Homo sapiens: one gene and its partner. The protein of the gene in region 1 interacts with the protein of each later gene in a biochemical or structural test. Each region holds a gene or a part of one and is shown on either strand. Other genes may lie near its edges.

Region 1 (3,657 bases):
AGGCAAAATTTCCTTTACAGGTCAGACTGGAAAAATTTCCATGTTGTGAGGTTGCCAGGCAGTGATCCTGAGTGGCAGGGCACTGAGACTTCTGCTGATCAACTCTCATTCTTTTCTTCTCCCACCTTCAGGCCAGTTCCTCCTGATTTTCAGCAGACCAACTTCCTTATAGATATTCCTTTCTCACTCTGTTGCCCAGGCTGAAGTGAGGTGGCACAATCTCAGCTCACTGAAACCTCCAACTCCCAGGTTCAAGCAACTCTCCTGAGTAGCTGGAACTAAGGCGCATGCCACAATGCCTGGCTAATTTTTTTATTTTTAGTAGAGACAGGGTTTCACCATGTTGGCCAGGCTGATCTCGAACTCCTGACCTCAAGTGATCTGCCCTCCTCGGCCTCCCAAAATGCTGGGATTACAGGCATGAGCCACTGCGGCCAGCCTAGATACCCATTTTTATTAATAATCACACTCTCCTCCCATGCCTTACACAAAAACCCCTCATGGACCTTCTTTCTCTTTTAAAAATTTTTGAAATGTTAAATTGGATGTGGATGAACTTCATCTTTCAAATGGCAATATAGATTCTCAACATTTAAAGGGATTTTTAAGTAGCCAGTAGGAGTCCACCAAATCTAGAACTGATGGCATCTTCTCAAGACACAGGTCACCTTTTGCCCTGCTCAGTGATGCTTTGTCATATACCCTCACCCATAGATGTATCTTAGATACACAATTCTCTGGTGATTGTGCCTCCCAAACCCCTGGATATACAGATCGCACCCCAGAGAAATAATCTATGTTTAATTGGAGGGCAGGGAAGAATAAATTCAGTAATTTCAAAATATTTGTCATTAACAATTTCTTAAGTGCTTCTCACCAACTTCAAAGATGTATATGCAATTCTTTTCTTTTCCTCTAAAAACACCAATGCCCAAAGGCTCCAGGGTTTGGATCATAAAAAGGTTCTGATTCCTTCTGCCATTCTGCATCCCAGCTCTCTGTCCTGTTGTAGCTTCTCAATATGTGAAAATATAGAACTGATTAATTAGGAATGCTGGGACTTGTCTGACCCACATCTCACCTGACTCCCCACTCCATTGGAATTCCATTCCATAGTCAGAGGAATATCAATGTCAGAAAACAAGGTTTCCCTGATATCCAACCCGAAGTTTGCTTCTACAAGTATGATCCAATTACTTCCATGGGCCACGCTAAATAACTCCTCTCCTTCACTGCCACTCTCTCTCTTCAGAGATTTGTAGATTGTTACCATGGCTTTCCCTTCATCGCCATTTAGCCCAGCCATATATATTTAATTCTTTTCATCTTTCATTGTAAATCAGTCCCTTCAACTGTTAAATCAGCTCTCTGCTCTTCTCTGGACTAGTTCCAATTCTCCCAATTCACCTCCAATAACTGATATCCCTTCTGGGAGCTCCAATTTCCTCTCCATCCTCCTTTGCTCTCTCTGCCCACTCCAGAAATGAAATGGGAAGGGACTGACAGATATGGGAGTTCAAAGGTCAGATATATTGCATTGCATACATCTCTAAATTGCTCAGGCCTCTCCATAGTACATGTAAAATCCAAAGTCATGTATCCACTTTCCTGGGTGGGGAGGGAGTGCTTACAGGGAAATAGGCCTCCTATCCCATGAGTCATCATCCCCTAGCCCTCTGCCTGGGTGACAGCAGAAACAGATCTCAAAACACCTGTAAGCCAGGATACAAACTGGAGCTGTGGGCAACATGCCAGCCTTGCAGACAGACATCTTTTCTATGATTTGGGCTGTCCTGGGAGAGGCCAGAACCATTAATACAGTCCCAGAAACTGCCTCTTCACCTCTTCTCCATGAATGGGTGAATTTGGGATCTGCCTCAGACTTGAAATGCCGATCCTATTTCTGAATTCACAGTAACCCACAAGGAAAAACCATTAGCATTTCATGCATTATAAGGCCTCTCAGACATCTTTCTGTCCTCTCAGACAGCCCAAATCACAAGCAATGCAACGGTTTTGCTTTCTCCTAACTGGTGCTTTTTCATTTTTACTATTTTAGTCATGGTCCTGCTCAGGTTTAGGAAGCTATCTTTGGTCTGAGCCAAATGGGCTGCTCCAGGCCCCTCACCACAAAACATGGAAGAACAATCAGCTCTTCCCTCCCCCACAAATAGCCCCATCAGCATCATTGTGTACCTCCAGACAAGACACTTGGGCAGACACAGGAAGAAAATAAGCTGAGCTGTGCCTACTTTCCTTCTGTATAATTGAAGAGCCCACATCATAGAAGAGTTAAATGCCTTTTCTATAAATCAGAGCCTATATAAAAATAATAAACCCATTTCTCCAAACATGATAAATAGCAAAATCAATCCCAGTGTCAGAACCTAACCTTGAATTTTCATAGGGAAAATGAACGGAACCATAATGATACATGTTGTCTGAAACACAGAACATGGTATAGCAAGGTGTATCTACTCCATGGGGATGTCTGCAATGGAGACTGTATCTGAATGAGGCTGGGGAGGCAATGATAATGTGAGAGAGGCTAGTCCTGCATGGCCAGCTGCCTAACTGCAGACAGCATATGTCCTCAGAGAAAGGAGAGACCAGGCTGTTCCAAGTATGATCACCACAAGGCCCGAAGTGCTTTTCAATAGGCTGGCTGTCTCTCTGGAGGTCATGGGGAGCTCATCCAGTTACACTTAGTGTCTTATTTGATCCTATCAATAATCATTTGATTCCAATCCTGCTGAAAAATGCTTGGCCAAATTTTCTTGCCTTTTAATGGCAGAATCCTGGCTCCTACTGAAATCAGCATTGCTAGATGTGTCAAATGATGCATAAGGGCTTGGTCCAGCTGCCAAATGTACTGGGCCACTGAGGGAGGGCTTGGGATGCCCACAATGCTTCCCTACAGCCAATAGCAGAGAAGCCCTTGGAGCACAGCCTTTCTACATAAACCTCCCCACTCAGCAGCTCCAACACCTTATTTAAGACTTGAGTGGAGTATATTCTTTAAATGAATTAAGCATGTGACTCTTCAGAGACACCCACTGATAGCTTCATGCAACCTACCTGTTTACAGTTGGCAGGTTCGGGGCTGTAGAAATGAGCCCTTTTGCCTGTCACCAACATCTGACAACAGCTGATACAGACTGCTGGATTCTATGGTCATTTGATAAAAGGTGATGGGGAAGCTCCACAGATGCTCAGAGGCATGAAACTAGAAGATAATCTGCATTTCCAGAGAAGTCATTTTTATATCCATTACTAAAACACTGGGCACTAAAACAGAATGTTGCATGTATAAACCACACAAACCACAATGACATTAAAGCCCAGCTGTTCTTTACAAAAACATCTTGGGTGGAACAACAGTATCAGTCTTCCATCTCAGTTCACTGAAGGCACTATCAAACTCATCAGTGCCTCTTAGGATGGTCTATATAAATTCCAGCACTAAATGAAAAGGGCTCACTTTAGGTGCCAGTGTCACTAACACTAATGTTGAAATGTGCATCCGCACTCTGTTTTTCTTGGGGGTCACATACTAGTATGTATTCTGTGCAATGACTAGGGAACCTCAGCTTCTGAATATCCCTCCTGCATGAGAGTACTCGTGTGTGTGTGTATGTGTGTGCACAAGCATGCAAG
Region 2 (3,047 bases), on another chromosome or scaffold:
TTGGTTTTACCCAAACTGTTACTGAGAAGTGTTTTTGAGGCATGTTTTCAACAGAACATATTGCAAAGTTGCTTTCCTCAAAGGGGTGAATGTTCCTTGACCAGGATGAGAGCAGAATATTAATTTTGTATCAGGCTATCGTCCTGTACCGATTTAGAACTCTATGAATATGTGCTGTGTTTTTGAGTCTAGCAGGGAATGTTCTAGATGCCTGGGTACATTGCGTGCTCTGGGGTGAGCTTGGTGGTTGTTGTGGAAAGAGTGAAATTCAACTCCTGTGTTGGTCAAAAGAGAGATTTTCTTTTTTCTGCTATAATTATATAAAGTAGTATTTCTCAATCTTTTATCCTTTTTTGAGAAACATAGAACTCTTATCCCTGCTACTAGAGTCTAATCTCTTTTTTATATTTTGAAAACAATACTTATTCATATGAAAGCATTTGACAATATATTTTTCTCTCCTCTTTTTTTTTTTTTTGAGACGGAGACTTGCTCTGTCACCGGGCTGGATTGCAGTGGTGCGATCTCGGCTCACTGCAACCTCTGCCTCCTGGGTTCAAGCGATTCCCCTGCCTCAGCCTCCCAAGTAGCTGGGACTACAGGCGTGTGCCACCATGCCCAGCTAATTTTTTTTTTGTATTTTAGTAGAGATGGGGTTTCACCATGTTGGCCAGGATGGTCTCGATCTCCTGACCTCATGATCCGCCCGCCTCGGCCTCCCAAATTGCTGGGATTACAGGTGTGAGCCACCGTGCCTGGCCTCAATATATTTTTCTCTTACTCTTCCTTCCCCAATCCTGCTTCCTGGAGGTAGCCAATGTTTATAGTTTGGTGTACATCTTTATAAGACTCTTTATGTACATCTGTAAACACACACACACACACACGCACACACAGTACTTTGAAAAAATTGGATGCTGTTTTTTTTTTGAGATGGAGTCTTGCTCTGTTGCCCAGGCTGGAGTGCAGTGGTGCCATCTCAGCTCACTGAAACCTCAACCTCCTGGGTTCCAGCGATTCTCCTGCCTCAGCCTCCTGAGTAGCTGGGATTACAGGTGTGTGCCACCACGCCCAGCAAATTTTTGTATTTTTAGTAGAGACGGGGTTTCACCATGTTGGCCAGGCTGATCTCGCACTCCTAACCTGAGCCGATCTACCTGTCTTGGCCTCCCCAAAGTGCTGGGATTACAGACAGGAGCCACCGCGCCTGGCCAGATCCTGTTTTATGTATGTTGCTTCTCTGTGATTTTTTTTCTCCTCTTATAATATCATGGATATTTTTCTGTGTCAGCTTATACCCTTGTTTCCTCTTTTCTTCATCACTATCCACAGATTCTGATATACCTACCTGAAGGATAGTCCTCATCCAGCTCCACCTGATCATCTCCTTTTAACCTCGCTCCTCGGTTGAGCATTACAGTTGATTCTTACTCTGTACAGTCTCACTAGCCAAGGCAATCTTGTTGGACATTTGATTGTTCGAATGTGTGTGTGCATTTTTTCCTCTACATTTCCTCCTTCCTTTGCCCTTCCCTGAGACTGTGGCATTTTTCCTTGGGGAGGGGAGGTGTGGAGTGTGCTCTTCTGGTTGAGAATCATTGAGGAAGGACATCTTGCTTCTGTGATTTCAGATTTCACTGCAATGTTGTTACCTCTTGAAACATGTTCGCTTGAACCGTTTGCTGTTGGGTGGATGGGGTTTGGGAGTTGGGCGGGGGAATGACCTGTTTGAAAATAATTTTGGGTGCTAATTTCTGGGACCCATGTTCATTTTCTGTCTCTCTCTTTCGTTTTTCTATCAGGACCAGTATGTTTTCCTCAATCAGTGTGTTTTGGATATTGTCAGATCCCAGAAAGACTCAAAAGTAGATCTTATCTACCAGAACACAACTGCAATGACAATCTATGAAAACCTTGCGCCCGTGACCACATTTGGAAAGACCAATGGTTACATCGCCTAATTCCAAAGGAATAACCTTTCTGGAGTGAACCAGACCGTCGCACCCACAGCGAAGGCACATGCCCCGATGTCGACATGTTTTTATATGTCTAATATCTTAATTCTTTGTTCTGTTTTGTGAGAACTAATTTTGAGGGCATGAAGCTGCATATGATAGATGACAAATTGGGGCTGTCGGGGGCTGTGGATGGGTGGGGAGCAAATCATCTGCATTCCTGATGACCAATGGGATGAGGTCACTTTTTTTTTTTTTCCCCCTTGAGGATTGTGGAAAACCAGGAAAAGGGAGCTATGATTTTTTTTTCCAAAACAATTTCTTTTTTAAAAAAGACTATTTTATATGATTCACATGCTAAAGCCAGGATTGTGTTGGGTTGAATATATTTTAAGTATCAGAGGTCTATTTTTACCTACTGTGTCTTGGAATCTAGCCGATGGAAAATACCTAATTGTGGATGATGATTGCGCAGGGAGGGGTACGTGGCACCTCTTCCGAATGGGTTTTCTATTTGAACATGTGCCTTTTCTGAATTATGCTTCCACAGGCAAAACTCAGTAGAGATCTATATTTTTGTACTGAATCTCATAATTGGAATATACGGAATATTTAAACAGTAGCTTAGCATCAGAGGTTTGCTTCCTCAGTAACATTTCTGTTCTCATTTGATCAGGGGAGGCCTCTTTGCCCCGACTCCGCTTCCCCTGCCCCCTGTACATTTGTGCTCCATTTTTTCTTCCCTTTTCCCTCCCAGTTTTCTCCAAAGACTCTTCTGTTGGCAACATTTTCAACCCATTGGTTGGGTGAGAATGGCGACTCAAATATCACCTTGAGAATTTCTGTGGGTGGGAATGGGAGAAGCAGAGGAATCCTACAGTGGCAGAAATCCTTTTCTTGTCCCTGTATTATCCTTTTTCTCATGTCTGTATTTGGTATGAAGGATTATTTAAAGGTGCAATATGTGAATTAGTGATTCATGATGTTCTAGGTTTTTAGTAACGTTTTACTCAGGTTGGCATTTTATGTGTCTGTGTCTGTATGTGTGTGTGTATGTTCAGAAGCGTGGCAATCTGTGAACACTTCAGCGTG

The links. Proteins that work in one complex are often made in the same cells at the same time.
Region 2: of the proteins of ALK (region 1) and PTPRJ, one has a biochemical effect on the other in vitro, tested with the Homo sapiens proteins (one large-scale study listed by IntAct).

What each region holds. Positions count from the first base shown.
Region 1 is NC_000002.12:29,915,080-29,918,736, forward strand, and holds part of ALK (ALK tyrosine kinase receptor isoform 1 precursor), read right to left. Parts: intron 1-3,657. UniProt on the Homo sapiens protein: Neuronal receptor tyrosine kinase that is essentially and transiently expressed in specific regions of the central and peripheral nervous systems and plays an important role in the genesis and differentiation of the nervous system.
Region 2 is NC_000011.10:48,165,402-48,168,448, forward strand, and holds part of PTPRJ (receptor-type tyrosine-protein phosphatase eta isoform 1 precursor), read left to right. Parts: intron 1-1,802; coding exon 1,803-1,961; 3' UTR 1,962-3,047. UniProt on the Homo sapiens protein: Tyrosine phosphatase which dephosphorylates or contributes to the dephosphorylation of CTNND1, FLT3, PDGFRB, MET, KDR, LYN, SRC, MAPK1, MAPK3, EGFR, TJP1, OCLN, PIK3R1 and PIK3R2. Plays a role in cell adhesion, migration, proliferation and differentiation.